Homo sapiens: one gene and its partners. The protein of the gene in region 4 binds, or shares a complex with, the protein of the main gene of each other region. Each region holds a gene or a part of one and is shown on either strand. Other genes may lie near its edges.

Region 1 (7,671 bases), on a different chromosome or scaffold from region 4:
TTGCCCAGGCTGGAGTGCAGTGGCGCGATCTCGGCTCACTGCAACCTTCACCTCCCGGGTTCAAGCGATTCTCCTGCCTCGGCCTCCCAAGTAGCTGGGACTACAGAGATTTGCCACCACGCCTGGCTAATTTTTTGTATTTTTAGCAGAGACGGGGTTTCACCATGCTGGCCAGGCTGGTCTCAAACTTCTGACCTCGTGATCTGCCCGCCTCGGCCTCCCAAAGTGCTGGGATTACAGGTGTGAGCCACCGTGCCCGGCGAAAAGTTCAATTTTCATACAAATAAAACTCTTAAGTCTTTTCCTACCAGTTATATCCTATACACACTTTTCTTCATCACAGCAGATAGGGTTAAACTGTAGGATTAATACTTCTTATATGCCTGTTGTAACTTTCAGATGAAACCCAAATATGATGCTAATATCTTTTCCCCCATATAAGCAGAGATCTGGGTAGTAGGTAGGCAGTAGTGAAGATCCCTCACTCTTTTCTCTCTACAGCAGCACAAATGATGAGTGAAATTTACTTGTGTGGCAAACTCACATGGGTATACCTAGATTTTGAAGAATCCTAAAAAGATTTTAGGAGGGAAATAAAATGTCACAATTTTAGTGATACCATCATTACTAAGGGTTCAGTAGCTGCTGCTCACCAGGGCTGGCGAGTTGAGACTTATGTACCGTTTCTACCTTCTTTTGTCCCACCTGAGAAAGCTTACTGGAAAGCAATAAGTAGAAATGATATATATGGATGATCTAGAATCTACTTTAATTTACTGAATAAGTCACATTCACATTTTTATACTTCATTATTATTATTATTATTATTTTTGAGATGAGATCTTGCTATGTTGCCCCAGATGGTCTCGAACTCCTGGGATCAAGTGAACACCTTGCCTCAGCCTCCCAAGGAGCTGAGATTACAAGCGCATGCCACCATGCTTAGAACTATATTATTAATGATACATAATTTGTATCAAATTTCATAACTGATCTTAATACCTGAATATGCTATTTCACATGTGGAGTTGCTGACTTTTTACACTTCCATTCCTTTAGTAGACACCCTTAATTAGAAAATGTATTGTACAATAGTTGCAAAATCTAATTTTCTTGTGCGTTCAATTTCCTACAGCGTTTAGGTATTAGCTTCTGAAAGTAAGACAATCTCTAACTCCCAGAAAAAGGCTGACTGTTCGACAGCCATGGTATTAAGTAAACCACTAGAACCAGTTGGAAGAATAATTAAACCAGATTTATGCAGTTAATGATATCTCACCAAGGTCTAAATAATCAGTGACAACTCACTTCAGTAAATACACCTCTGAAAGCCAATTAACCAGTGATAGCCACATGCTTTTGAAAGTTGGCCTGTCGGCTGCAGACTGGCTCCAGTGAATATGCTTCTGAAAGCCAGCCAGTCAACAATAGTTTCTTTCAAATAATGGGGCTTCTGAGGGTGATAGCTGCCCCTAAACAATTCCTGACCCCAAAACACTATGTAAGATTTGCAGCCTGCTTTGCTTGGAGACACTGTGCCTAAAAGCACAGCTCCTCTTTACTTAAGTAATAAATTAAGCCTTTTTTTCTCCAGTCATTGAGAGGTAGCCTTTTTCTTCAACACTTCTTACAATCTTTGCTGCATCCCCCACAAAATGCACCCTTTAAAATTGTAATATTACCACTGATGAGAAGTAAGTGCAGAAGAATGGTAGGACTGTCCTGTTAAAGGTACTTTACCACACATCGGGGGCATCTAGACCCCTCTACTGCACTTCAGTACATGCTTAGCAGCAGCGTTCCAAGTGCTTACGGGCTGGCTGTGTTGATGTCTAAGCCAACACCAGTGTAGCTGGAATCATACGCCCTTTAAAACACTTTCATCAATACTCCTGGATTGATATGAGAAAACAAACTTACTGTCTTATTAATACCTCTTCATATACATATTCTTCTATTTAAAAAATTATCCTTTTCTCTGCCCAGAAATACAGATGGTTTTCTGTAATATCCATTTCTAGTAGGGATTCTCCATGTTTCAAAAATGACTTGATCAGAATTTGTCAATTAAGAATATAAAAAGGCACCTTTTTCCTTTCTATGCCATGAGAGAATCTTGCAACTATTGGATTTAGTCGGCTCTGGTATAAAAAATGAACTCTAGACACATGAATAACAGCATAAAGTCCACAAGAAGAAACAGATTTCCTTACAAATTTGAAAAAAAGCAGAGAGCCGTGAGTTAAAGGAGCTGTCTTTTTCAACTGTTTGTTTCATACACCACTGCACTAAGCAAGTCCAACATTTTGATTAATAACAAACCTAAACCCAGAGGAAAGAAAGGGCTATCAGCTTACAAACTACTTCAGCTTTAATATCATAATACTTAGCATGGCTAGTTACTTGGCAATAATATTTAACCTTTAATAGAAATACAAGCATAATCAAAATGCTTCATCCATTTATCTTTCAACATGCTTTGGTCACTTCATTGTGAAAAGCAAAACAAAACAGTTATTATGATTTTCAGCATAATAAATTCCTGACCTACTTGCCTCTATAAATCACAGACTGTACGAATTGAAAGCATGCCCGCACTTTACAGTCTCCTATGAGGATACACAATAAGATTTAGAATACGGACTCAATTTGAGTACAGGGGGTCTGATAGTTTACAATCATGTATGTCCCAATAACTCAATACTATCCACTCTGCGGCTCTTTATGGAATTGGCCCAAAAAAAGTAGTGAATTTTTTTGGAATTAATTACACACTGATCATTTACATATGAAAATTGTAGAGCTTGTTCACTTGAAGGCAAAGACAAAAATTTAGGTTTGATTAATAAAAAATTTCACATAGGCTCAGATTCTCAAATAACATTGACTTTATAGTGTGTTACAATATTATATATAGTGTATATATAAAATCTATGGTTATATATAATATATAGCTATATATTATACATATGGTATATAGTATATATAGTATATATACAGTATATACACTATATATAACTGATCTCTATGGTATATATTATATATATCATATATAATATGTAATCTATTATATATTGTAGTATATAGTATATATTATATATATAGTATGTTAAAATATGGAAGTTTACTATTTTCAGAGAGGTTGTGTTTGACAGGAAAGTGGTTTTTTTGTTATTGTTTTTGGTGTTTTTTTGGTATGGGGCTGTGTAAAATTACAAACAGAAGTAAACAACTGATTTTTCAAAAAGGACTAGACCTTGACTGACTTCACTAACTTCTTATCCAGTTTTTAAAGTTCTCCCACAATTGTGAAATAGACTAAGATACAATAGCTATTTGTATCAATGGGAAATATCAAGAGAGGAACTGATTCTCAGACACACAATAAGTAGTCTAATATAGAATTCCAACATTAGCAATTCATTTCCGATTTAAATGAATTTAAATTACTTATATAATATAAACAGCTATCTTTTTCATTGGGAAGTCTACAAACCTCTTCTTCCCACATCCAAGCCACCCTAACTTAGGAACTTATCACCCAACCCTACGATTGTTGCAGGTGTCCTAATTGTTGTACATCTGTACTATTTCCTTCCCAGATCCAAAGCTTAAAAAATAATATTTCTTCCACATTTCTTTTATAGCATTCTTTTGATCAGAAACTACTGGTTATCATATTAGACTGAAATAAATACCTCAGTCTACCCTTAAAAGTCCTCCAACAACTGGTGCTTCCTATCTCACCAACCTTATTTCATTTCTTTCATCAATTCTCCCCATTTTGTAATTGCCTGTTTACTTGATTGTGAACAGACTCAGTTGTTTGAGACAGTTTGAGTCTTGTTCACTGTTGCATTCCCGGTGCCAAACATGGTGATTTGTGTTGGGAATAAGGCCTTCAGACCCTTTGTACTGGTCAGGCCTGTTGGCTGGTACTAGAAGGCTTGCTAAGCTAAGAGTCAACTTCCTTTTGTGGGTAGAGACTGTCTTATATTTTGATGATAAACTCCCTAAAACATCTACCAGATTCTGCAGAAAGTCTCAGGCTCAGCATAAGTCTCTTTTCATTTCTCACAGCTCACCAAATACTGATAGTTGCTTTTCCACTCACTCATACTAGTGATTGCTAGTTTTTATTTCCTCAAAAGACTGCAGTGGGAACATGCCTTATGTTCTTATCCATCTCATATAGCACCTGATGTAGAACTAGAGAGAAGGGCCCCTTTTTTTATTTTTTATTTGTTTAAAGCAATGTTTCTCAAAGCATATTTCTAGAGCCCCTGCATCCGATGCAGGTTGCATGTTAAAATCACCAAGTAGCTTTAAAAACTATCAGTGCCAGGCTTCCAACTCCAAAGGTATTGATTTAATTGTTCTGGGATGGGGTCCCAGCATCAGTAACTTAAAAAAAATGTTCCTAGTTATTTTTAAATGCAGTCAAAGTAAAGGGCACAGAAATAAAGCTTAAGAGCTTTTATGCTTTCAGATTGATTGATTTCATTAGCCCTTTGTCCTTGCCCCTTCAGAGATGGAGAACAGCTGGTTCCTAATGACAAACTACTCAAAGAAACTCAAGTAGCCTCTGAGTCTATTATTTGAACTGAATAATCTCAAGTGCATTATTTATTTCTGATATATGTGATTTGAGGAAAAGGCAATGAGCTAGACTCAATTATTCATTCAAAAAACATCTGGGGGCTTTTAATGCATGCTGCCAACGCTGGACACTGGTAAAACAAAGCCAAATATGACCCAGGCCCTACTTCCATGAAGTAAACAATCTGTAAGAACATACAGACAGACACCACGATGTGGTAAACGCAGAGTTTGGAATTGCCTGCAAACTGTGAGACAACAAAAATAGCACTCGCTGATGCAGCACTCTACAAAAAGCTTTCCCATGTTGTCTGGTAGCATCTTTACAATAACTGAATGTGGTGGGGGGCAGGAAAAATATTATTATCACCCCTGTTTCATAGGCAGTCTCTGAGACTGAGGGTCGAGAAACTTGTAGCTGATAACTTCTTGACCAGATACTTTCTTCTATGTCTTCAGAGGTAACAAAACTTTCATCCTGTAAAGATGGATTTAACTTTGGGAATACATCAAAAGTCAATTCAGTGCTAGGTCTAGTAAGGAAGATAAGAAATCAGATAGAGTAGTGCTTATTTTGGAGTACAAAATTTAAAAAATGCAACCATAAAAAGACATGAATCCAGGTTGGACATTAAAGAAATTTCAAAAGAGAAATTCCAGAAATGTCTTGAGCAATGTGGGAGCATCTTTGGGAAAAGGCACAACTCTTTTAGGTGAATGCTTACTTACAAAAAAGAAAAAGCATTAATTCCCCCTATAAATTTTTATCTCCTTATTGCCTTTAATCAGTGCTATCTGAAATCTCAGTTCCAGTTTCTTCTAGTTCTTCCTAAAATAGGGATGCTAAGCAGGGACACCTCATTCAGCTGGAAGTCCAAAAGGAGCAGAACCAAGGGCCCACAGCCTGCCTCTGCAAGGGTGGATATCTGGCAATCTCCTCTCAGCCATCGAATTACTAAGGACTACCTTGTGGTCCATAATACTCAGGTCTTTTATATTTTTCAAAAATGCAAATGTAGCCATGAAAACTCTTCTGTTTTAAATGCTTTGGTGGCTCTCCATTGTCTACACAAGGAAACCCAAAATTCCCAATGTGGCTTCTATAATCTGGCTTTTGCTTCCCTCTCCAGCCTGTTACATCTCCTTCTCCCATCACATCTATGCTCCAGACATCCCAGTTCTTTGAAGTTTCCTGAACAAACGCCTGCACTCTCCTTCTTCCTCGCTGCCTCTATATACACTATACACTTCTGTCTCTCAGTTAGCTGAGTGTTATCTCCATCTTAGAAATGGTTCCTGATTCCTTTCCTGATCTGACCTGCTGTTTCTCCCCCAGGGTTAAGACCCTCTTCTGGTCTTGCAGAGAATCTTGAATATCTCTCTGGTTTAGTCTTCCTCATACTACAGTGTAACTGCTGTCTCCCTTACTAGGCTGCAGGTGCTCTTGAAGGTGGCGGCTCTGCTTTTTTGTTGAGATGGGGTTTTGCTATGTTGCCCAGGCTGGAATGCAGTGGCTATTCAAGTAATCATAGCACACTATAGCCCTGAACTGCTGGGCTCAAGTGATCCTCCTGCCTCTGCCTCCCAAGCAGCTGGGACTATAGACATGTGCCACCACACCTGGCTCTATGGTGGCTCTGTTATTCGCCTTTGTACCAATTGGCCTTTGTACTAGCCAGCAATGCTTGCCAAGAAGAATGCCCTCAATAAATGTGTGCTGAATAAATAAATGTTTCTGAGTAGCCAGCCACCTCCAAAACCTTTGACTAGAGTTCTGGTTTTGTTCACCTTGCTCCTTGATAGTATTAATACATAATTCCAAATCATTGAGCAATTATGTTTATAAACTCTTACATGATAATGCCAGAGAAAAGGGTAATAAGTTACTCGAACAGCTGAAACAAGGTATTTCTACTACTACTAACTTTATGATATGAAAATCCAACACTTATCTTTCTCAAATGGACCAGTTAAACTGCTTGAAGATTGACATCTGTCTAGTGTATGATTAGCCTTTGAGGTGGGAGAAAGTACATATATTGTCCTCGGACAGCCTTCCCCATGTGGGTTAAAAGACCTTGCCATTCTTTATGAAATTTTGCCATACACAAAATTTGTCTCTGTACTGTGTTAGTGTACTGTGTTGACAGCTTCTAATTTCTCTGTTAAGTTAGAATTCTAAGAAACCTAACAAAATAGCTCCTAGTTATTACTAAGATTGTCATTCTATGGGACTGTGGATTACAAACTTTAATGAATCTGATTTAAGTTTTTTAGGGGTAGGGTTGAAAGGAGACTTGTATTTAAAAAGCAAAACCAGCCTTTTTATTTTTAAAGAAAAATCTCAGCAAGACCAAACAATTTTCAAGTTTTGCCCACATCTGATCCTTTGAAAGGACCTGCTCTGTATCATAGGTGGGCTGCAGCATACTTTTGTCCACATCACTTCTCTGGGACGCCCTTCCGCCTCCTTCCCACTGGTGTATGTCCCTGTTTTTTTCAAAGCCCAGTTTAATTCCCATTTCCTCCTAAAATTCTTTTCTGACTGCCCTGGGCCTCAGGATTTGTTCCTGCCTTTGAATTTCTTTAACACCTTCTATGAAACCTCTGTGGTATGCACTCAGAAGCCCTGAGTTTGATTTGAGTTACATTCAGTCACTATTACTGGAGAAAGTCACATTGCTTCTCAGGCCTCTGTTTCCTCACCTGTGGAGAGGGGTGGTAATGTGCAACCTATTTACCTCACGTGGCCTGAGGATCAAACATCATGGATTTGAAAGGGCTCTGCAAATGGCAAAGTGCAATCCAAACATTTATTATCATTTTAACTTATTTTGTACTTTGTGTCTTAGTTAGCTTGGGCTGCCATAACAAAATACCATGGCCTGAGTGGCTTAAACAATAGCAATTTATTTTCTCACAGACAGAAGTCCCAGATCAAGGTGCCATCAGTCAGTGTCTGGTGAGGGCTCTCTCCTTGGATTGCAAATGCCTGCCTTCTCACTGTGTCCTTACATGAGCTTTCCTCAGTATGTGCCAGAGAGAGAGAGTTTTAGTTTCTTCCTTCCTTAT
Region 2 (8,401 bases), on a different chromosome or scaffold from region 4:
GAGCTCCTTAAATGTTGTAGGAGAAATAAATACACTCTTCCCCAGCACTCACCATCTTTATTTCACTACAGCCTTCTTATCTTTTCTTAAACAAGCCATCTCAGGATCTTTACATTGGCTATTCCTTCTGCCATCAAATCAATCTAATCATCTATCTATCTATCTATCTATCTATCTATCTATCGCAATCAATCAATCACAATTTTTCTCTATTGCAATCAATCAATCACAATTTTTCTCTATCTATCTATCTATTGCAATCAATCACAATTTTTCCGGCTGGGCGAGGTGGCTCACACCTGTAATTCCAACACTTTGGGAGGCCAAGGCAGGTGGATTACTTGAGGCCAGGAGTTCGAGACCAGCCATGCCAATATAGTGAAACCCTGTCTCTATTAAAAACACAAAAATTAGCCGGGCGTGGTGGCGGACGCCTGTAATCCCAGCTGAGGCAGGAAAATCACTTGAACCTGGGAGGTGGAGTTTGTAGTGAGCTGAGATTGCTCCACTGCACTCCAGCCTGGGTGAGAGTGAGACTCTGCCACAAAAAAAAAAAAAAAAAAAAAGAACAAATTTTCGTATGCTTTTATAGAAAATTCTTCTCCAGATCTCCAGATCTTTTCTTTTTTGATTGCTCCTTGCTGGGCAGGGCTATCCCACAGGCAGTATGCCTAGAGTAGCCCCAGATCTTTCAACAGCTTGCATCTCAGCACTCTTGTCTCTGCTCAGTTACCTCTCTCTAGAGCTGTTTTCTGACCACCTTACCCAAAATAGCCACTTCACCCCAAACTCTGAGTCACTCTCTAACCCGGTCTTTATTTTATTCCTAGCATGTATTACGTGAAATTGCATTATGATTTTACTCACTCTGTCCCATTAGAATGTAAGCTAATTAGAATTCTGTCCCACTAGAATTCCAATTCTGTCCCATTAGAGTGTAAGCTCCATGTGGATAGAGTATAAAATTAAAACAAACTCAGTTTCTCCTATTATTTCACTCAACAATCAACAACACACAACACTTCTGATACCAGATGTGTGATGGTTTTTCCCCACATATCAAGCAAGCTATCAACTGTGTCTACTGGACACCAGTCAAGTGTCCTCTAATTCAATTCAATTTTGATGTTATCTACCTGGAGATACTGTCAGATGTTACAGGTTGAAGGCTCAGTCCCACAAGACTGCCCTTACTTCAGATGCCAACAGTAGGTCCAAGGCCACTGGCCAACTAACTACAAACCAGGGTTCCCATGACCTCATCTTCAGGTTCAACTAATTTGCTAGGGCAGCTCACAGAACTCAGGGAAATGTGTTTACTGATTTAAAGGATATTACAAAGAATACTGAGGAACACCAGATGGTAGGTATGGAAAGCTCTGGAGTCCTCAAGACTGGCCATTTAAAGATCGCATTCTGCCACTGCAATTTTAAGCACGCAATACCCATGACAGGCCAGATGATGTGGTGGCTCACGCCAGTAATGCCAGCACTGTGGGAGGCTGAGATGGGTAGATCAGATCAGTTAAGCCCAGTTCAAGACCAGGCTGGGCAACATGGCAAAACCCCATCTCTACTAAAAAAAACAAAAATTAACTGGGCATCATGGCAAGCGTCTAGAGTCCCAGCTACTCTAGGGCGCTGAGGCAGGAGGATCACCTGAGCCTTGGGAGGTTGAGGCTGCAGTGGGCTGTGATTGGGCCACTGCACTCCAGCCTGGGCAAGAGTGAGACCCTATATCAAAAAATAAAATAAATAAAAAATACCCATGACATCTCTAGAAATTTTTCCTGTGTGTCCATTTCAAATTCCACCTTTTCCACAAAGTCTCCCCTCATAACTTTACTAGTCTATGACACAGTGTCTCACACCTGGGGAGCACTCAAATGTTTGCTGCCTGTAACATTTACTAAACAAACTCTTGGCTGGGCATGGTAGCTCATGCCTGCAATCCCAGCACTTTGGGAGGCCTAGGTGAGAAGATTGATGGAGGCCAAGAGTTGGAGACCACTCTGGCCAACGCAGTAACACCCTATTTCTAGTTTTTTTTTAAAAAAATTTCAGATGCCGGGCATGGTGGCTCATGCCTGTAATCCTAGCACTTTCGGAGGCCGAGACAGGAGGACTGCTTGAGGCCAAGAATTCAAGACCAACCTGGCCAACACAGCGAGACCGCATCTCAAAAAATAAAGTTAAAAAAAAAAGCAAAAAAATTTTAGAAACGAGGGTGGGGAGAAAACTCTCCAGCCCACATAACTTATTCCATTCAATTCTTTTTGCACTAAGGTTAGTATTACACAAATGCACATTTTGTGTTCTGTAATTGTTTTATGTCTGTATACCTTGCACCCCTATCTTCCCTGTTGCCAAAGACAGATTTTCTTCTGTGTACACAACCCCCAGGACAGAGCAAGGCACCAACAGTAATTCCCAAAATAATTTTTTGATTAAAACTTTTGGAGTCATACTGTCATCAGCCAGAAAAAAAAACATGCGTGAGGAGAATGAAGGGTGTTAAAAGAGCTCAAGCTGATGTCCTGAAAGGATTACTTTATCTATAACCTTCCTGAACACTAGCCTTTTCCTGTTGAGTTCGCATGGAAAGTTTTTCCACTTAAAATGGGGCAGCAAGGCTGGGAACTAGTAGGAGTAGCGTAACTTCTCGGACTCTCCCACTGAAAAGCATCTTTTTCTTAAAGGCGGAGAGCACTTTACAGACGGTTACTAAGGTAACCGGAAACAGCAAAACTGAGGTGGTTCTATCTACGGAAGAAATTCTAAGCTCCAAAGTTAAAATGCGGAGCAGTGGCGCATATCAGCAGACGGCGGTCACTACTGTGGCTCATTTAAATCTGTGTTCAGCTCCGGGCCTCTTTTTTCAGGAATCCTTGTTTCGGGACACCCAGTGGACAGCGAAAGGAGAGAGACCACCACAGGCAAACGGCCGGAAAGCCGCGCAGTCGCAGCCCGCGCGCTTCACTCCGCCCAAATAAGCCACTACCGTCACCAACCCCATCTCGTTCGCCCGAGCCGCGGACCTGAGGGAGCGCTGTCCGCTCCCCGCAAGATGCTCACGCGAAAAACCCACTCTTCAGTGTCTGAGACCACTCCGCAGCTTTCGGCCTCGGTGAGCGGGTGAACTAAACCCGGGAAACCGCTGAAAGACCCCAGCTTCGACTAGGCCTAGTCGTAGCGGCGGCCAGCGGGAGGGCGTAGCCGTAGTCTTGGCCCACGTCATTCTGTGCCCCGGGTCAGGTCACCGCCCGGAGGGTATGGGAAGAGAAATGAAGAAGACTGGTACTCCCAGACCCTTCCGTATCGAGGACCCCAATCAACAACCCACCTGGTGAGCGCCATCTTCTTCCGCTTCTTCCAGCGCGAGCGACAGCACCGCTGGGCGGGTCTTTCCAGATGATGAGGAGCGGAAAGGAAGGAGTGCGCGATGCGCAGGCGCTCTGGCCGAAAAGGCCTTCTGGGATTTGTAGTTCTTTGAACAGGAGTACCGTTTGTATTCTGACCAGACCAAGCGGTTATCAAGGAATAATCTCTTCAGCTAGCAACAAATGCATAACTCGATCGCTTATATGCGACATGATAGGGCGTTCCCTAGGCAAAATATCAAAGATACAGGGAGATGCCTTTTAGGCCGCTTTATTACGTTCCTTACTCAGTCCCGTTCCCCGAGAAGGGGTACAAAATACAAAAGCTTCCCGGGGACAGCTACTTTAAGTAAGAGTGATAGGGCGTTTAAAACGACAGGTAATAATGAGACTAGCTAATGGAGAGTCCTTGGACTCTCTGAAAACATTCACACTCAAAACTTTTCTTTAAACCATATCCTCTCACCCGCCAAAACACTCTCTTGGGGAGATATTTCGTAATCCTTGGTAATTTACCGAGTGTCTGGGTTCTCTGCCCAGGGTATGACAAGGCTGAAATCTCATAGGAGGCTCTGGAGAAAAATCCATCTCCTAACTCATTCTTGTTGGCAAAAATCAGTTCCTGGCGGTTGTGGGATCGAGTTCCCTGTTTTGTTTTGTGCTGTTAGTGGTGGCCACCCTCAGCTCCTAGGGGTCACTCTCGAGTCCTTCCCACATGAGCCCTATTTATTGGTAGTTCACAACATGGATATTTGCTTTCTGAGGCACATCTTTCTGACTCCTCTTCTGCCACTGTTGGAGAAAAATGCCCTGCTTTTAAAGGGCTCATGTGATTAGATCAGGAGCACCTGGATAATCTCCCTATTTTAAGATCAACTCTTGGCCGGGCGCAGTAGCTCACACTTGTAATCCTAGCACTTTGGGAGGTCGGGGCGGGCGGATTGCCTGAGCTCAGGAGTTCGACAAAGCCTGGGCAACATGGTGAAACCCTGTCTCTACTAAAAATACAAAAATTAGCTGGGCGTTGTGGCGCGCTCCTGTAGTCCTAGCTACTGGGGAGGCTGAGGCAGGAGAATCGTGTGAATCAGGAGACGGAGGTTGCAGTGAGCCAAGATCACGCCACTGCACTCCAGCCTGGCGACAGAGTGAGACTGCGTCTCAAAAAATAAAAATAAATAAATAAATAAATAAATAAATAATATAAAAGAATAGCTGGGTGTGGTGATGTGCTCTTGTTTTCTCAGCTACTTGGGAGGCTGAGGTACAAGAATCGCTTGAACCCAGGAGGTGGAGGTTGCAGTGAGCCGAGATTGCACCATTGCACTCCAGCGTGGGTGACAAAGTAAAATTCTGTCTCAAAAAAAAAAAAAAAATCAACTCTGCCACACCGCATAACAGAATCAGAATCTTCATAGTCATGGCCCCAGGGGTTATGTAGGTCAGGTACTGTGGGGGTTGGGTGAGGAGGAGATCTTGGGGGATATCCTAGAATTCTGCCTGCCACAGCATGTAAACCAAAAAAACAAAAAGAAAAAATCTTTTGGTAAATACAGGATTGTTAATCACATTGTGTAATATAACCTGCATGGCCTGGGAGCCCGAAGATTAGAGTTTAAGATGTAGCTTTGGCTGGGTGTGGTGGCTTGTGCCTTTAATCCCAGCACTTTGGGAGGCTGAGGCGGGCAGATCACCTGAGGTCGGGAGTTTGAGACCAGCCTGACCAACATGGAGAAACTGCGTCTCTACTGAAAATACAAAATTAGCCGGGCGTGGTGGTGCTTGCCTGTAATCCCAGCTACTCGGGAGGCCGAGGCAGGAGAATCGCTTGAACTCGGGAGGCGGAAGTTGTGGTGAGCCGAGATCGTGCGTCGTTGCACTCTAGCCTGAGCAACAAGAGTGAAACTGTCTCAGAAAAAAAAAAAAAAAAAAAAAAGATGTAGCTTCAGCACCAATAAATTCTTATAGGGCAAGTCATTTAATTTATTTGGGCCCCAGTTTTATTGAACTTAAAATGCTGATCATGTTATCTGCTTTACCTATATTTATATAAATGTAAAATAATTATATACAATACAGCAGAGTATGAGCCTTAAATGAGGTAATGTAGGTGGATATGTTTTTACTTAACTCTTAAGTACTATGTAAATATGTTAGTTATTACAGTTAATATTTTGGTTGACAGTGATCTACTTCAACCTCTGCTCCAGGAATGTATTATTTCTAAAAGGAGAAAAACAGAGAAGCAAATTATAGAACGTCCTGGAAGCCAAGATCAAGGAGCTTAGATTTAGTTCAGCAGGTGATTTGCAGCTGAAGGAGGACTTAAGTAGAGGGCCTGGGTCAAAGGAACAGGCAAGAAAGACAATTCTTAAGGCAGAATGGGTTTCTATGGCAATGAGAGACAAAGGAGGCTACTGAGGACAAGGTTAAAATAATTAACATGGGAAATCAGTAAGACATAGACCAAGACCTGGGATGCAGGATTGAAAGAACAGGGTGGAGAAGAGCTTTTGCAATCCACTCTCATTTTCCACAGAGGCACATCATGCAAGGCATTTCCACCAGTCATAGTCCCTCGCTGTTTTGGGGGTGTGTAAAGAATAGAAACTGACTTTAATAGCAATCCTATCAAAACAATTAAGAAAGCAAATCTACTGCAAACGTGATACAATATTATACCCAAAGGCCTAGTGCTTTCTTTGGTTTTGTTGGGGAGGGGGTTTGGTGTTAAGCTATGCTGAATCTTCAGTGCCTATCCATCCCTCATTATCATAGGTAATTAGCAGCTGCCTGCTCATGTAGAGAGCCCAGTGCATGCTGGAATCAGTAATGCGCCAGGTTGCAAGAAGCAATCAATTCACTCCAGTCTTAGAATTCTGGATAGAGAGTAGAATTGTTCTCAGAGAACCTAGGGCCTAATTTGATTCCTAAGTAGGTGTGGCTATGTAGCCACAAGTAATATAGCTTGTGAGGTGGTAGGGAGGACAAGTTAAGCACATATTCTGGAGTCAGCTTTCCTGCCTTCTGATCCCAGCTCCCTAATTTATGAGCTGTAGATTCTGGATAAGTCACTTCTCTCTGTCTCAGTTTTCTCACTGGCCAATAAAAAGGGTGAGGGGCGTGGAATCAGTATAACTTATCCTCAATAAAGCTATTGGGAGGATTAAATGAGTTAATCATGTGAAGTGCTTAGAAAAATGCCCAGCATAGAGTAAGCGCTCAAAAATTAATTATGCTTTCTGGCTTTAATGAATTGGCCTTAATTTATTAAGGTTCAGGTTTTGCATCTGCAAAGTGAGGCAGTTGAACTCAATTTTATTTCTGGGGTACCTTCCCACTAACATTTTCTACTATAGGATGTTTTTTTAAATTTACTTCAATGCCAGTATTTTATGCTCTGATGCCATTATGCTTTAGTTATTATGGCTATATTATTATAATCATTCTCTGATAAAAAGTAGAGCTGCTCCACCACACCGTTCTTACTTTTTGGATGTGTTTTACGTGCCCTCTCAATGTTTAAAATTTTTTTTTAATTAAAATATTGGTTTGCATTAAAGCATAGTTAAAAAGGCTAGAGCCAATGATTACTTAGGAACTGCGAAAGAAATAACGTATCTTTACGATGGAGAGATTTGGCTGTCATCACTTTTGCTTCACTAACAGTGGAACAATCTGACACTAGGTGCTTTTAATAGGAAGTTCCCCAGTTTTCTTTCTTTCTTTCTTTCTTTCTTTCTTTCTTTCTTTTTTTTTTAGACCGAGTCTTCCTCCGTTGCCCAGGGTGGAGTGCAGTGGTGCGATTTCGGCTTACTGCAACCTCTGCCTCCCTAGTTCAAGCGATTCTCCTGCCTCAGCCTCCCGAGTAGCTGGGATTACAGGCATGAGCAAGCACGCCTGGCTAATTTTTGCATTTTTAGTAGAGATGGGGTTTCACCATGTTGGCCAGGCTAGTCTTGAACTCCTGGCCTCAAGTGATCCACCCACCTTGGCATCCCAAAGTGCTGGGATTACGGGTATGAGCCACTGCACCTGGCCGGAAGTTCACCAATTTTCTGATCAAACCAGACCTAATGTCCAGTTCACAAGAAATTCAGGGGATAGAGTAACAAGTTTAAAAGCATGAGGAAACAATCAGTAAAATCCAGAATGTGAGACATTCTACAAGACAACTGACTGAGACTCTACAAAATGTCAATGTCATGGAATGGATGTGAATAGAATAGATGAAAACAGATTGATGAGACATGACACATAAAATTAGTAAACCTTGATGGGATTCTGGTTCAGTTGGGGAAAACTATAAAAAATATTCTTGGGACATTTGGAGAAAGTTGCATATGGAGTGATAATAGACAACATTGTAGAATTTTTGCTAAATTTCTTAGGAGTATTAATGACATTGTGGTTAAGTAGAAGAACGTTCTTATTCTTGGGAGATGCATGCCAGAGGATTTGGGGATGAAATGTGTCAACTTACTTTCTTCTTTTTTGTTTGTTTTTTGTTTTGAGACACAATTTTGCTCTTGTCACCCAGGCTGGAGTACAGTGACGCAGTCTTGGCTTACTGCAATCTCTGCCTCCCGGGTTCAAGTGATTCTCCTGCCTCAGTCTCCCAAGTAGCTGGGATTATGGGCGCCTGCCACCATGCCCAGCTAATTTTTGCGTTTTTAGTACAGACGAGGTTTTACCATGTTGGCCAGGCTGGTCTCGAACTCCTGACCTCAGGTGCTCCATCCACCTGGCCTCCCAAAGTGCTGGGATTATAGGCCTGAGCCACTATGCCCAGCCTCAATTTACTTTCAAATAGTTTATCTCAACAACAAAAAATGTGTGTGTGTGTGTGTTTATAGTGAGAGAGTGTGAGAGAGCATGAAAGGGAAAGCAAAATGTTAACAATTATTTAAGCTTAGATGGGGGAGTGTGGACTGTATAGGTGTTTATTGAACTATTGTTTCAACTTTTATATATATATGAAAATTATCTCTTTTTTTTTTTTGAGACAGGGTCTCACTCTGTTG
Region 3 (7,671 bases), on a different chromosome or scaffold from region 4:
TCTGGGTGGCGTTCTAGATTTAGCTTTAGGTTGGGAGGATCCAGAGCGACTGCGCCTGGGTGGTGTCTGTGACTTTTGTTTAGGGCATGGGGAAGACCCTGAAAGGCTGCGCCTCAAAGACAAGCGAGATTTTGCTTTGGACCGTGGTGAAGAGAGAGACCTGCTCCGCCTTGAAGAAATGCGAGATTTCTTCATTTCTGGGCTTGAATTGGACCTGCTTCTTCTTTGAGATGTTCTGGATTTGTTTTTCCGCTCTGAAGATGAGCCAGATCTGCCTCTTCTTTGAGGTGTTCTAGAGTGAGATCTTCCACGTCTAACTAAGCTTCTACTGCGGGATCTTCCTCGTCTTGGTGTCCTAGACCGAGACCTCCCTCTCCTGGCTGGTGTTCTGGAGCGTGAGCGACCACTGCGTCTAGCTGGGGTTCTAGAGCGTGAGCGGCCACGTCTGGCTGGGGTTCTGGAGCGTGAGCGGCCACGTCTAGCTGGGGTTCTAGAGCGTGACCTGCCACTTCTCCTGGCTGGTGATCTACTACGAGACCTGCGTCGTACTGGTGATCGGGTCCTAGATCTGCGCCTAGCAGGTGTTCTAGACCGAGACCTGCCCCTCCGGGCTGGTGTTCTAGACCGAGACCTACGCCTGGTGGGAGTTCTGGATCGTGATCTCCGCCTGGCAGGTGTTCTAGAGCGGGACCTGCCCCGGCGGGCTGGTGTTCTAGAACGAGATCTACCCCTAGTGGCTGGGGATCTAGAGTGGGACCTCCCTCGCCTTGCTGACCTAGACCTGCCTCTTCTCTGGGTATTTCTGCTCCTAGACCAGCCTGGTCGCTGAGGAGACCTAGAGCGGCCACGTCGCTGGGGGCTTCTAGATCTTCCCCACCTCTGTGCAGACCTGGACCTACGCCACTGGGGAGATCGGGATCGAGAATGACCTCTCTTGGTAGGGGTTCGAGACCGAGATCGCCCTCTCTTAGCGGTGGCAGGGCTACGGGACCTCCCCATCCTACGGGAGGGGGTATGAGAATGTGATTTATCCCGTTTTGCTCGGCCATGTGAGCGATTCTTAGATGTGGGAGAAGAAGAAATCTCTCGGTGGGACCCTGGAGCTGGAGCAGGTTTAGGACTTTCTGGGGAAGAGCTGGCATGCCGAGAAACTTTGGTAGGTTGAGGGGATGGTGGGCTGCTCTCTGAGGAAGAAGACTGGGGAAGTTTCTCGGGAGACTTAGGTGGTGAACGGTCCCGAGTTGGAGAGGCCTCAGATGGGGGGTTCACTGGCTCCTGGCTTAAGGGGGTGGTTGCAAGGGGTTGTGGGGAGCCGCCATGTCGCTCAGCAAGGAGCGGAGTGGGAGCAGGTGGTTCTGGGCCTGTGCTGCTCCTTTCCGGAGAGGGGCTAGGTCGAGTTGCAGATTTCTAAGAGTGGAAGAGAGAGCAGGGATAGGGATTCATAAACGCCAAAACTTCACATCACCCCTAAGATCCCAACACCCTTTCCAATGATAACTTTTCTTTTACACACCCTCTGACCACAAGCGATCACTTTCATTCAATAACAAGGAATCATATAAAGCACAGTGGTGAAAACATATGAATATATGGATAGCCAGAATCTTAAAACTAAAAGAAACACAAAATGCAAATAACTAATGCACTACTACATTTAACAAATACCACTACAAAATGTTATAAGAATGGAAAAAAACTATCTTTAAATGGAAAAATAAGCAGTTTCCTAAAGCGAATGGCAACTTCACCTTTGAAGAATAACTCTATTAAACGAAAAGAAACAGCATGAATAAAGATGTGAGAACATGATTTGTGTGAAGAGTAAAAAAGCAGCCCAGGATGGGTAGAGTACAGGAAATGAGAAAAAGACCAGACTATTAAAAGCCTTAAATATAATTCAAAAGCAATAAGGAAGTAGTTAAGTTTCTGAGGTCAACCAACTTGTAATTTGGAAAGGTAACCCTGGATGACATGGAAAATTGATGATAGAGGCCAAGAATTCAGACTGTAATCACTAAAGCAAGAGGAAATGATTAATGCTTAAAATTGGAACAGAAGACTACTGAAGACTATTTCAGTGTTTCATTCAAACTATTGGTGGCAACGCAATGGATTAAAAAGTTTTGGTGAGACATGACCAGCATTTAATGAAAAAAGAGAAGAAACTAGAGGCATCATACGGAGTACACAGATAAGATACAACGTTTGTTCCAGTTCTATCTATGTATAAACAAGACACAATATAAAACCTAACATCCAGTGAGATTTGATTCTAAAGGGTTCACAATTCAGTCTAGTAACAACACTAAAAGTTCTGCAGATGCAGTAAGAGAACTAGGAGAGAAATGCAGGAAAAAAAACTGAATTTATTTATTTTAATAAGTTATTACCTCTCCCTTTCACATCACATGTCTATCCTAAATCTATACATTTGCAATCCAATGAACATCACCAACTCAGGAACATACCTCCTTCTTGTCTTTATCTTTGTCTTCATAAGGGCTGCTAGGCTGTTTCGTAGCAGTCTCCGGGCTACTAGGCCGTTGTGTGCTGGTAGTACCTGGTTCACTGAAAGGCGCATCTCCCTCCCCGCGTCGCCCTGAAGCAGGGGAAGGACTTCGCCCAGCCAAGGCAGTTGTATGAGTTTTAGCTGCAGCACTTCGAGACCTGCAGGAGTTAATTGAGGACGTGGGAGAGGAAGGAAATCAGCTCAAAGGGAGAACAGAAAACCCCCTCCCCAACTCCCATCCACCTTTCCTAACTGGACAACCCTCTTCCAAAAAGCCTTTAGTCGCACAACTCAAATCATTCACTGAAATGCAAGTACAGTCCACTTTGGTTCTTCTTTTCCCAACACAATCCCAAAGAGCGTTCTCCCTCTACCCCTTTACTCACCTCCCCCAAACATCCCCAAACCATCCACCCAGCCCACTCCCTACCCGCTTCATTCACAACTCACCTCTGAGCCCACCTCCTTCAGGAAGCCTTCCCCGATTAAGGAAGCCAGGGTAAGGATTCCTTCCTCCCCCAGACACCACGAACAAACCACCACCCCCCCTATTCTGGCAGTCCATATACATCAGAACGAAACAAAAATAACAAATAAACAAAAACAAAAAAAAAAAGAGAAGGGGAAATGTATATGTCTGTCCATCCTGTTGCTTTAGCCTGTCAGCTCCTAGAGGGCAGGGACCGTGTCTTCCGAATGGTCTGTGCAGCGCCTAGCACACCGTGGGCGCTCAATAAATATTAAATTAATTAACCCATCATTCCCTCTCCCTCCCTTCCTCCTGGACTACCCCTTACCGACTGCGGGAAGTATCGGAGGAGGAAGCAGAGTCAGCAGAAGTTGAACGGTGGGCCCGGCGGCTCTTGGGGGCTGGTGTTGTACTTCGAGACCTGAAGGAAGACCACCACCACAGCTCAGGGTACTGCTGTACCTGCCCTGGATTCTCCTCACGTATCCCTCAACCCTTTACCAGTCAGGGACATAACTCATTCAACTCCCTCCCACTAAGGTGGCGTTCACTTACTTCCTAAGCAAATTCCCCACAAATTCACTCACCGCTTTCGCTTTTTGTCCTTAGATTTACGTTTGCTCTTTGGAGTGGGAGACCTGGGAAATAAGGAAAGGTTGTTAAAAGTAACTTCTTTAAAAAAGGAAATAAAACCAAAAGTGAAATGGAAAGAGGGAGTGTTGACACAAGGAAGATCAAGGAATTGAGCTTCACTCCAAGAAAAAAAAATCACCACTCCACATGCCACTGCGCCCCCTATGAGTTAAAGAGCTCTTACCTATGCTTACGTTTCTTGGACTCAGATTCTGACCTGTTGGAAAAAAGAGAAGAAAAAACATAAGAAACACCTCTGCCTGAATTCAGCAAACCTTCTCCAGTCATTCAAGTATTCCCACCTCATACCTGTGCTTCTTCTTCTTTGAGCTTTTCTTTCTCTCCCGTCGAGGAGAGCTGCTCTCTGACCTGCTAAAGATGGATTCAAAAGCAAGCTCATCCTGCTTGGCTTCTTTCCTGGCCCTCCCACTTACAATCTCTCTCCTAAAAAGGTTTCTAAAACACTTGAATGTCCTAATAGCACTAATGCCCCAGACCTAAGCCCAGGACTTATTTCTTCTTTCTCCAACAAGCACAAGTAACTCCTTAAGTCAACAAACCTCAAAATGAAAAAGAAAATTCCAGAATCCAAAATGCTGCTGGCCAATCTTAATTAGCAGAACTGCAAACTCAACACTTCCCCACTGAGAAACTCAGGTATTTCTTCTAGTTGAGGCCTCAATGGTAACTCCCTCCTCCCTGACAACTATCTCCTGCTTTGTGGAAGCCAGAACTGTCCACTTCCAGAGAGAAAGGTACACCACAGGATTGGTCCTCTGGCTATCAGAGTCACTTTCCAACTAACTTACCGTCCTCTATCTTTCTTCTTTTTCTTCTTCTTCTGCTTTGGGGTTGGTGAGCGAGAACTGCTAGACTCCCGAACAAGGCTAGGGAAAAATGAAAAGCAGCAGAGATGGGTGGTAGAACAAACATTCCTTTCTTTTCTTTAAAAGACAGAGTCTAAAAAAATAGTAATAAAAATAAAAAAATAAGAGTCTCGCTCTGTTGCCTCAGGTGGGGTGCAGTGGCAGCAACACAGCTCACACCGTAACCTCCAACTTGTGGGCTCAAAAGACCCTCCTGCCTCCACCTCTCCAAGCAGCCTGGACTACAGGCATGTGCCACCAACCAGCTTTTTTTCTTTTTGTAGAGATGGGGTCTCACTACATCGCCCAGGCTGGTCTCAAACTCCTGGCCTCAAGTGATCTCCTGCCTGAGCTTCCCAAAATGCTGGGATTACGCGCGTGACCCACTGTGACTAACCCTTGGACACATTTTTTTGGACACCTCAACTTCAGAAGAACAAAATCTGAAGAGTTTGGGAAGAAACCAGCCCGCAAAAAGACAAAAATAGAGCATGGAGCTTACAATCAAGAAAAGAAGCTGACAGTGGTTTCTTGGCCTTGTATACCTGTAAGGTTTGGGAGGCTCAGGAGCTGGTTGTTTAGCTTCTCGGGCACGACGCTGAGGATCAAAAGAGCTGCCATCTACGTAAGAATCACTGATGCCAAAGGCAGCACGGAGTCTTTCATTCTTCTTCTCATTTAATTCTGCCAACTGGTGAGTCTCCGTGACCCTAGAGAAAAGAAGGGCAAAAGTCTGAAGGAAATATAAAGGACAGAGCCATATTCAGAACACAAGTATAAGCAGGAGCCAAATAAGGCATGGGAAAGGCAGACGAAAGCAGGGAGGAAGTCCCACGTAAGGAAAAGGACAGCAGCAGCAGCCAGCAGCCAGAGTAGAGTCCAGAGTCATCGAGGGAGAGCGCAACACTCACGCTGGCCTCTGCCCTGGGGTCTCCTCCTTGCCCCCAGGGTTCACATCCTTCTCCAGCAACATGAGTCGAAAGGTCGCCACTTTTTCCTGAATTTGCTGTTCCTCGTACCTGAAGAACAAATCCCTTCAGGGTTAAGCTCGACAGGACACTTTCCCCAGTCCCAGGTTTCCATTTCCCTCATTCCCAAAAGGGGCCCCTCCCTCTCCATGCGCACACAGAACTTTTCGCTCACCCAAAAGTCCCTTCTGTCTGATCTTTTCCCATCATCTTTCTTCCCTCTACTTACTACTCCCTCTAGAACAGTGGATTTTAAATATGCTACACCTCAGGGACCAAAAGAAAAAAGTTAAGCAAGCAGGGTTCCAAGTGCTCCTCCCCAACTTCAACAAGAATGTGCCTTTTACTTCCTGGGATTCCAAAGTAAGGGATACTGTATAAAAGGATCACCATTGCTGAAGTTTAAAACCACTGCTCTAAAAGAGTTTTCTGCCTTAATGGGCTCCTTTTCCAAAATTTCCCTTCCCAGCCCATGATTCCCACTTCTTCACGTATTCTTCTAATTCCTCTTTTCCTGCCTATGCTACTTTCCAAGGCCTCAATCCTTACATCCATTTATCTTCTTCTTTTCTACCAATGACAACACCTATCAGCTTACCTAGCTCCTCTACCTGGTCTCTGCTTTCCCATCTCTTCCTTAAAACACATTTTTGTTCCTCAATGGCCCCTCCCTTCTCCCACGTGCCTCCATTTAGTACCTCAGGCTCCCATCTATGCCCCAGACACACAGCCTTCTCATTTCCCACTCTGCACTGTCCCTTAACTGTTTTCACTTCTCTAGAGCTCATCTGCCTCCTCCCCTACCACAACTCTTTGCCAGGCCTCTTTCAACCACCCTAAGCTCCCTATACATCCCACCTAACACCCCCAGCTCTGCACTCATTCAGTGCTTGACTCTCCCCCAGCTCTCCCTCACCCCTGCTCTTCCATCATCTCCTCCAGCTCGAGGCATCGCAGCTCGACGCGCCGCTTGCGCTCGTGGTCCAGGATGTCAGGATTAGGCCGCTTCACCAGGGCAGCCTCCAGGCGCCGCAGTTCCTCCTCTCCCTTGTAGTCAGGCCGCTCACCCCGGCGGCCCCGCACCAGGGACAGGTTGCGCTGGACGTAGCCGTTGGTGCCGCTGCCCCGGGGCGTCGGCAGCCCGATCCCGTTGTACATGGCCCCGTGCCCGGGGGGGGCACCACCGCTCCTGAGGGGGAGCGGGGAGACACGGGTCAGGCCCCTGGCCCCAAACTAACCACTTACCGCCCCACACCCAAGTCCCTGCTCTCCTTCATCCCTAATTCAACATTGATCTTCACACTAAGTCTTCGCTGTATAATGCTCCACCATCCTCCTGGTCTCCCAAGAAAACCACTTCTTTGCCCTTCCAAATTTCCTTTCTACCAAATCACAGCCCAGTTCTTACAGCCTTTCTCTCAATGCCCTTGCACAGAATTCTAAATAATCCCTCCCTACACCTAAATTTTCTTCTTTTTCCACCCTAGGCAAACAAGGATCTTGTTCCTCTAAAATCTCTCCACACTGTCCCTTTTTGTTCTCCTTTGGCCCCAAAATGCACAAGTGGTGTGTTTACCAACTACTCTAATTCCTAACCTCTGGTAACCAACCAAAGCCTCCTGGTCACAACAAACACCAGACACAGATCTGTGGCACCCAACGGCCTCTAGTCCATGTCCAAAGACTCTCCCAAAAACTTACCTAAGGATTTCAGACCACCCTATACGAATATGAAATAAACTACACAGCCCCTAGGTATCTGAACAGCAGACTAGTTGGTTCAGAATGTGCAGCCTCACACCCCAACTAAAGGCCAGCATGCACATCAGAAACACACATGAACCTTGGATAATCGTCATATACTTCACCTCCCAGGTAAGGGCCATTTCCTTGATTCCAAATATTTAAAGATCCTATCAACTATCCTGATATTTTATTCCTTCAATTTCCTTCCTCTCAATAGGATTTACAACAATTTGCAGTTCCTCCCTGTCTTGCCAGCTGTCAAATATTACCTGTTTTCAACTCTGCTCTATTTAAACACATCAAACCAGCCTCCTCTGTTCCAACCGTTCCCATACCTTCTCCATATACCTTGCCCTAAATCTATGTAGAAACCCTCTCTACACCCCACTTTCATTAATGTCCAACCGTTGGCTTTCCCCACCAATCCCCTGGATAGCACTTCCTAGTTTTTCTCTCTCAGCCCTGCCTCTTCCTTCTCTC
Region 4 (7,671 bases):
AATTCCTATCAATAATCTGCATAACAATTTCAGCTTTCCTGAATTATATCCTCAACCTTTATGAAGGAACACAACAATACTAACATAAACTGTCATTTGGACGTTTCTAATTCTCAAACCTGAAATCCAGACATACAAGATCTTAGACTCATTATAAACCATGAAAAAGAAATAGGCCAGGCGTGGTGGCTCACGCCTATAATTCCAGCAGTTTGGGAGGCCAAGGCGGGCGGATCACGAGGTCAGGAGATCGAGATCATCCTGGCTAACATGGTGAAACCCCGTCTCTACTAAAAAATACAAAAAATTAGCTGGGCATGGTGGCGGGCACCTGTAGTCCCAGCTACTCGGGAGGCTGAGGCAGGAGAATGGGGTGAACCTGGGAAGCAGAGCTCTCAGTGAGCCGAGATCACGCCACTGCACTCCAGCCTGGGCAACAGAGCGAGACTCCGTCTCAAAAAAAAAAAAAGAAATAAAGAATTACAGTCGGTAAAAAGATTACAAGCTTATTATAATGCCTATAAAGTAAAAATCTCCCTTCCTAACCCCCTGCACTGTGGGTATGTAGGAATATTATTCCAGATCACTTTATATGCATTCAGAAGGATATATACAGATTTCTTTTGACATAAATTGGGTCATATTTTATTCACGTCTATAACTTGTAGTCCTCGTTTAGCAGTTTATATTGGACATATTTCCATTTCAACATACAAAACATTCTAAGAACTGAGGCTGGGCGTGATGGCTCATGCCTATTTATAATCCCAGCACTTTGGGAGGCCGAGGAGGGCGGATCATCTGAGGTCAGGAATTCAAGACCAGCCTGGCCAACATGGTGAAACTCCATCTCTACAAAAACACAAAAATTAGCTGGGCAGGATGGCGTACGCCTGTAATCCTAGCTACTCAGAAGGCTGAGGCAGGAGAATCGCTTAAACCTGGGAGGCAGAGATTGCAGTCAGCCAAGATCGCACCACTGCACTCCAACCTGGGGACAGAGCAAGACTCCATCTCAAAAAAAATTAAAAAAAAATAAAAATAAATTAGCGAGGCAAGGTGGCGCACGCCTGTAATCCCAGCTACTTGGAAGGCTGGGGCATGAGAATCGCTTGAACCCGGGAGGCAGCATTTGCAGTGAGGTGAGATTGTTCCACTGTACCCCAGCCTGAGTGACAGGGCAAGACTCCATCTCACAAAAAGCCAAAATAACAAAATAACATTCTAAGAACTGGAAAGTATTCCACTATATGGAAATGTCAAAATTTATTACCGCCTGTTGACGGACATTACTTTGGTTCAATTTTTTCCCATTACAAACCCAATTATGCAAACCCTCACCAACACAAGTTGCTATAAGTCTTTCAAATTTTTGTCAATTTGATGGGGAAAAAATTTGCTTTTCCTTAATTACCTGTGAGATTGAATATCTTATCTTTTTTTTTTGACACAGAGTCTCGCTCTGTCACCCAGGCTGGAGTGTAGTGGCACAATCTCGGCTCACTGCAACCTCCGCCTCCTAGGTTCACGCCATTCTCCTGCCTCAGCCTCCCGAGTAGCTGGGATTACAGGCGCTCGCCACCACACCTGGCTAATTTTTTGTATTTTTTTTTTAGTAGAGACGGGGTTTCACCATGTTAACCACGATGGCCTTGATCTTCTGACCTCGTGATCCACCCGCCTCGGCCTCCCAAAGTGCTGGGATTACAGGCATGAGCCACCGCGCCCTGCCTGAATATCTTTTCATTAACATGGGAAAACTATTTCTTCCGTGAATTACCTGTTCACATTATTGACATTCTCAATTAGGTTGAGTTTTTCTTTTATTTTCTACTGGTTTGCCAGTCATTCAAGTTTGTTGTTTATGGTTTCTTTAGTCACACAAACTTTTTTCACTTTTATGTTTTGAATTTGTTCACCCTCCTGGGATACATAATTTACCTAAGAAAGGGTTTTTTCTATGCCAAGATTGTAAAAAAATAGTGTCTTATTTTCTTCTACTTTTAGAGTTCTAATCTACTTGGAATTGATCTTTTTTATGCAGTGTAAGGCACAAATCTGTCTTTATTACTTTCCCCAACTGAATAGCCAGTTGCCTTGATAATATATAATGAACAATCTATCCACTTCTCACTTCATCTAAATTTCCGTTCTCCCCTTTTTATAAAATTTTGCAGAGGATGAAAAGTTAAAGGGTTTACAAATATTGTCAATTGCCAGTGCAGTGGCTCATGCCTGTAATTTCACCACTTTGAGAGGCCAAGGTGGGATGATCACTTGAGGCCAGGAGTTCGAGACCTGCCTGGTCAACAAAGCAAGATCCTGTCTCTACAAAAATAAAAATAAAAAAAAAATTAGTTGGCCGGGTGCGGTAGCTCATGCCTGTAACCCCAGCACTTTGGGAGGCCAAGGTGGGCGGGTCACAATGTCAGGAGTTGGAGACCAGCTTGGCCAATATGGTGAAATCCCATCTCTACTAAAAATACAAAAAATTAGCCAGGTGTGGTGGTGCAGGTCTGTAATCCCAGCTACTCAGGAGGCTGAGGCAGCAGAATCGCTTGAACCTGGGAGGCAGAGGTTGCAGTGAGCCAAGATCATGCCATTGCACTGCAGCCTGGGTGACAGAGCAAGACTCCATCTCGAAAAAAATACAAATAAAAAAATTAGCTGGGCCTGTTGGCTCATGCCTGTAGTCTCAGCTCCTCGGAGTCTGAGGTGGGAGGATCGCTAGAGCCCAGGACTTTGAGGCTGCAATGAGCCATGACTGTGTCACTGCCCTGGAGCCTGTGTGGCAGAGCAAGACTCCGTCTTTTTTTAAAATTCTATTTTTTTTTGAGACGGAGTCTCGCTCTGTCACCCAGGCTGGAGTGCAGTGGCATGATCTTGGCTCAATGCAACCTCCACCTCTTGGGTTCAAGCAATTCTCCTGCCTCAGCCTCCCAAGTAGCTGGGACTACAGGCGCCTGCCACCACACCTGGCTGATTTTTGTATTTTTAGTAGAGACAGGGTTTCACCCGTTGGGCTGGTCTCGAACTTCTGACCTCAGGTGATCTGCCCACCTTGGCCTCCCAAAGTGCTGGGATTACAGGCGTAAGCCACCAGGCCTGGCCCTTTTTTTTAAAGACAGTCTTCGCCAGGTGTGGTGGCTCATCCCTGTAATCCCAGCACTTTGGGAGGGCGAGGCAGGCGGATCACCTGAGGTCAGAAGTTCGAGACCAGCCTGGCCAACATGGCGAAACCCCGTCTCTGCTAAAAATACAAAAAAATTAGCCAGACTTGGTGGCACTTGACTGTAATCCCAGCTACTGGGGAGGCTGAGGCAGGAGAATTGCTTGAGCCTGGGAGGCAGAGGTTGCAGTGAGCCAAGACTGCACCACTAAACTCCAGCCTGGACAATAGAGTGAGACTTTGTCAAAAAAACAAACGAAAAAAAATTGATCACACCATCTCAAAGTAAGTTGTAGGCATTACGACACTTCAGCATGCATTTTCTAATGACATTCTCCTATATAACCATAATCTCACAATCACATCTAAGAAAATGAACCCCACACTATCATACAATACACAGTTCATATAAAAACTTTTAGTCTATAATATATACTTTGAATTAACAGATCCTATCATCACACTAAATGGTACACATAAGATAACCTATTATCCTCCCGCACTAGACTATTCTTGAGGGTAGGGATCGTAAGCTCTATATCTAATCCTAGACTGTAATAGGCACTGAATAATGTTGGCTGAAATGTTTTAATGAATAAAGGGAAACCAACCTTAAAATGCCTTTTTTTAATTTCTTTTTTTTTAGTGGTATAGACAGCCATCACAAAAAAGAAATTACTTGGTCTGGGATATAACAAGCCTCAAACTTTAAGAAGACTCATGAGTTGAATCTCTTTTTATATATGACATCAAGAAAACGTTTTTCTCAACGAATTGGTAACACTTTATTTCACCAGAGAGTTATTCAGCTCCAAATTTAACAATCAATTATAACTAGAAAAGCCTAGAATTCTGAACTAATGGTTTCCTCCCATTATCAAGTTTTTGTTTTTATCTTTTACACGAATTTACTATCCCAGTTAGTAAGAACTTTTACTATAAAAGTTCTTCAAATCATTTTTGGAAGCAAAGAAGATAAATAAAAGGAAAAAAAAAACCTTATGTGGCCAGGCGCGGTGGCTCAGATACATAAAAGATACGTAAAAATAACTAAGTTGTAGAAAGCAATAAAGATATACAGAGGTTTTTTTTGTGTTTTTTTTTAAACAGAGGTTTTTAGTTTAGGTTTTTTCTGAGACTATGCCACCATGCCCGGCTAATATTTTTTAAATTTTTAAATTTTTTGTAGAGATGTGGTTTTGCCATGTTGCCTAGACTAGTCTTAAACTCCTGAGCTCAAGCAATCAGCCTGCCTTGGCCTCCCAAAGTGCTGGGATTACAAGCGTGAGCCACTGCACCCAGCTACACACAGGTTTTTTACTAAGAATATATTGTAGCATGTGGAGAGGGGAGTCAGGTATTAGGGGACTCCTAGTAAGAAGCCTGAAAAGTTGGAAATATGCAGCAAGAAGAAACAAAAGAAAAAATACAGCATAAGACACAGAGTAATTATAGATACAAAGATGGAGTCTTGTTCTGTTGCCCAGGCTGGAGTGCAATAGCGCAATCTCAATCTGAGCTCATTGCAACCTCCGTCTCCCGGGTTCAAGAGATTCTTGTGCCTCAGCCTCCCAAGTAGCTGAGACTACAGGCGCATGCCACCACACCCAGCTAATTTTTGTATTTTTAGTAGAGACGGGGTTTTACCATGTTGGCCCAAGTGATCTGCCTGCCTCGGCCTCACAAAGTGCTACGATGACAAGCATGAACCACCACGCCTGGCCGATGAAATGTTAAGTTCAATATTTTAGGTCCTATGAGTAGAGAGGAGTTAGGCAGGTTCCTTTCATGGAAAGCCTAAGCTCTGTTAAAGAATTCCTCTAGGAGAGCTACTGAAGGATTTTCATCAATGAAGTGGAGTACCAGGCTCATATTCACATTTAAAAGAGAACCTAGGGCCAATGTTCAGAAACAGATTTTAGAAAGACAAGAGACCAAAGTATAATCTCTAGGAAGACAAATTATGTGACTAGAGCAGTACATATACAAGTTAAAACTACAGTAATCGAGACATAAGGAACAACAAATAGATCAATGAAACAATACAAGCAAACAGATCTATTTCTGGTCCCACATTTACATGGTTGATTTAGCTGGGATTACAGGCACTCGCCACCACAACCAGCTAATTTTTGTATTTCTTTTTGTTTTAGTAGAGCCGGGGTTTCACCATGTTGGTCAGGCTGGTCTCGAACTCCTGACCTCAGGTGATCTGCCTGCCTTGGATTCCGAAAAGTGCTGGGATTACAGGCATGAGCCACCAAGCCTGGCCTTATATGGTTGATTTTTTACAAAGGTGCCAAAGACGTGTAACAGGCAAAGGAAAGTGTTTTCAACAAATGATGCTGGAATAACTGGAAATCCATACAGAAAAAAAACGAACCTGGACCACTAACACCATTTTCCAAAAGTAATCCAAGATGGATGATAGTCACTTGAGCCCAAGAGTTCCAGATATAGGCTGGGCACAGTGGCTCACGCCTGTAATCCCAGCACTTTGGGAGGCCAAGGCAGGCAGATCACAAGGTCAGGAGATCGAGACCAGCCTGGCCAAAGTGGTGAAATCCCATCTCTACTAAAATACAAAAAAAATAAGCCAGGCATAGTGGCACATGCCTGTAGTCCCAGCTACTCGGGAGGCTGAGGCAGGGGAATCACTTGAACCTGGGAGGTGGAGGTCGCAGTGAGCCGAGAGTGCGCCACTGCACTCCAGTCTGGCAACAGAGCAAGACTCCATCTCAAAAAAAAAAAAAAAGACTTAAAGAGTTCCAGATACATAAAAATCGATCAGTCAGGCATGGTGGCTCACGCCTGTAATCCCAGTACTTTGGGAGGCCAAGGCGGGTGGATCACAAGGTCAGGAGTTCGAGACCAGCCTGACCAACATGGTGAAACCCTGTCTCTACTAAAAATACAAAAATTAGCCAGGCGTGGTGGCAGGCGCCTGTAATCCCAGCTACTTGGGAGGCTGAGGTAGGAGAATCGCTTGAACCTGGAAGGCAGAGGTTGCAGTGAGCTGAGATCGCACAATTGTACTCCAGCCTGAGCTACAAGAAGAGAGACACTATTAAGGAAATGAACATGTAAACCACACACTGAGAGAAAACACATCTGACAAAGAACTGGTATCCAGGACACAGATCTAATTTCTACAACTCTGGGCTGGGCGCAGTGGCTCACGCCAGTAATCCCAGCACTTTGGGAGGCCAAGGCGGGCGGATCACGAGGTCAGGAGATTGAGAACATCCTGGCTAACACGGTGAAATCCCGTCTCTACTAAAAATACAAAAAATTAGCCGGGCGTGGTGGCAGGCGCCTGTAGTCCCAGCTACTCGGGAGGCTGAGGCAGGAGAATGGCGTGAACCCAGGAGGCGGAGCTTGCAGTGAACCAAGATCATGCCACTGCACTCCAGCCTGGGTGACAGAGTGAGACTCCGCCTCAAAAACAAACAAATAAGCAAAAAACCGACTAAACCCTAAGGAGATACCACTACATACCCACTAAAATGGCTAAAATTAAAGACTGAGCAAACAACACCACATACTGGTGAGGATGTGGACCAATTGTTATTCTAATATATTGTTAATGGAAGTGTAAAATGGTACAACCACTTTGGAAAATGGTCTGGAAATTTCTTAAAAAGCTAAACACATAACTATGTTACAGTCCATCAACTCCACTCGAGTATTTACCCACGAAAATTTGTTTCCCTCCAAAAACCTGAAGAATATTCAACGTAGTTGTAAACAAAATACATAACTTTTTATTTTATTTTCTTGTAATTTTTTAAAATACGGAGCTTTTTTTTTCTTTTTTCTTTTTTTTTGAGACGGAGTCTCGCTCTGTTGCCCAAGCTGGAGTGCAATGGCGTGATCTCAGCTCACTGCAATCTCCACCTCCTGGGTTCAAGGGATTCTCCTGCCTCAGCCTCCCTTGTAGCTGGGATTACAGGCACCTGCCACCATGCCCAGCTACTTTTTTGGTATTTTTAGTAGAGATGGGGTTTCACCATGTTGGTCAGGCTGGTTTCAAACTCCTGACCTCAGGTGATCTACCCGCCTCGGCCTCCCAAAGTGCTGGGATTACAGACGTGAGCCACTGCGCCCGGCCTAAAATACAGAACTTCCAAACACACAATGCACTAATATCCAGTAATAAAAATGAACACATTACTGATACACTTCACAATGTGGATGAATCTCAAAAACATGTAACTAAAAGAAGTTTTACGCAAAAATACTTTGTGATTCCAAATATATGAAATTCTAGCGCAGGCAAAATTCATTTCTGGTGGAAGAAACTGGTTGCATCTAGGGGTATGGAGCCAGAGGTTGCCTGGGAAAGGCTTGAGGAAACTGTCTGAGGTTTTGGTAATGTTACTTCTGTTGATATGGGTTTAGGTTACAAAAGTGTTTACATTTTTCAATAGCAGGAAATATACACTGCATTTCATTGTATAAGATATTTACCTTAAAGAAGGAAAACAAAAATCCATGAGTGG

The links.
Region 1: SNRPD1 (region 4) and CWC27 share a complex: the UniProt entries of both Homo sapiens proteins name them as parts of the minor spliceosome.
Region 2: SNRPD1 (region 4) and SNW1 share a complex: the UniProt entries of both Homo sapiens proteins name them as parts of the minor spliceosome.
Region 3: SNRPD1 (region 4) and SRRM2 share a complex: the UniProt entries of both Homo sapiens proteins name them as parts of the minor spliceosome.

What each region holds. Positions count from the first base shown.
Region 1 is NC_000005.10:65,009,631-65,017,301, reverse strand, and holds part of CWC27 (spliceosome-associated protein CWC27 homolog), read right to left. Parts: intron 1-7,671. UniProt on the Homo sapiens protein: As part of the spliceosome, plays a role in pre-mRNA splicing. Probable inactive PPIase with no peptidyl-prolyl cis-trans isomerase activity. As a component of the minor spliceosome, involved in the splicing of U12-type introns in pre-mRNAs.
Region 2 is NC_000014.9:77,757,771-77,766,171, forward strand, and holds the start of SNW1 (SNW domain-containing protein 1), read right to left. Parts: upstream 3,387-8,401; 5' UTR 3,358-3,386; coding exon 3,344-3,357; exon of another isoform or gene 2,998-3,343; intron 1-2,997. UniProt on the Homo sapiens protein: Involved in pre-mRNA splicing as component of the spliceosome. As a component of the minor spliceosome, involved in the splicing of U12-type introns in pre-mRNAs.
Region 3 is NC_000016.10:2,755,297-2,762,967, reverse strand, and holds part of SRRM2 (serine/arginine repetitive matrix protein 2), read right to left. Parts: intron 6,635-7,671; coding exon of another isoform or gene 6,604-6,634; coding exon 6,362-6,603; intron 5,497-6,361; coding exon 5,389-5,496; intron 5,188-5,388; coding exon 5,023-5,187; intron 4,499-5,022; coding exon 4,421-4,498; intron 3,984-4,420; coding exon 3,921-3,983; intron 3,829-3,920; coding exon 3,796-3,828; intron 3,617-3,795; coding exon 3,566-3,616; intron 3,400-3,565; coding exon 3,307-3,399; intron 3,222-3,306; coding exon of another isoform or gene 3,179-3,221; exon of another isoform or gene 2,846-3,178; intron 2,668-2,845; coding exon 2,469-2,667; intron 1,408-2,468; coding exon 1-1,407. UniProt on the Homo sapiens protein: Required for pre-mRNA splicing as component of the spliceosome. As a component of the minor spliceosome, involved in the splicing of U12-type introns in pre-mRNAs.
Region 4 is NC_000018.10:21,614,943-21,622,613, reverse strand, and holds part of SNRPD1 (small nuclear ribonucleoprotein Sm D1), read right to left. Parts: intron 1-7,671. UniProt on the Homo sapiens protein: Plays a role in pre-mRNA splicing as a core component of the spliceosomal U1, U2, U4 and U5 small nuclear ribonucleoproteins (snRNPs), the building blocks of the spliceosome.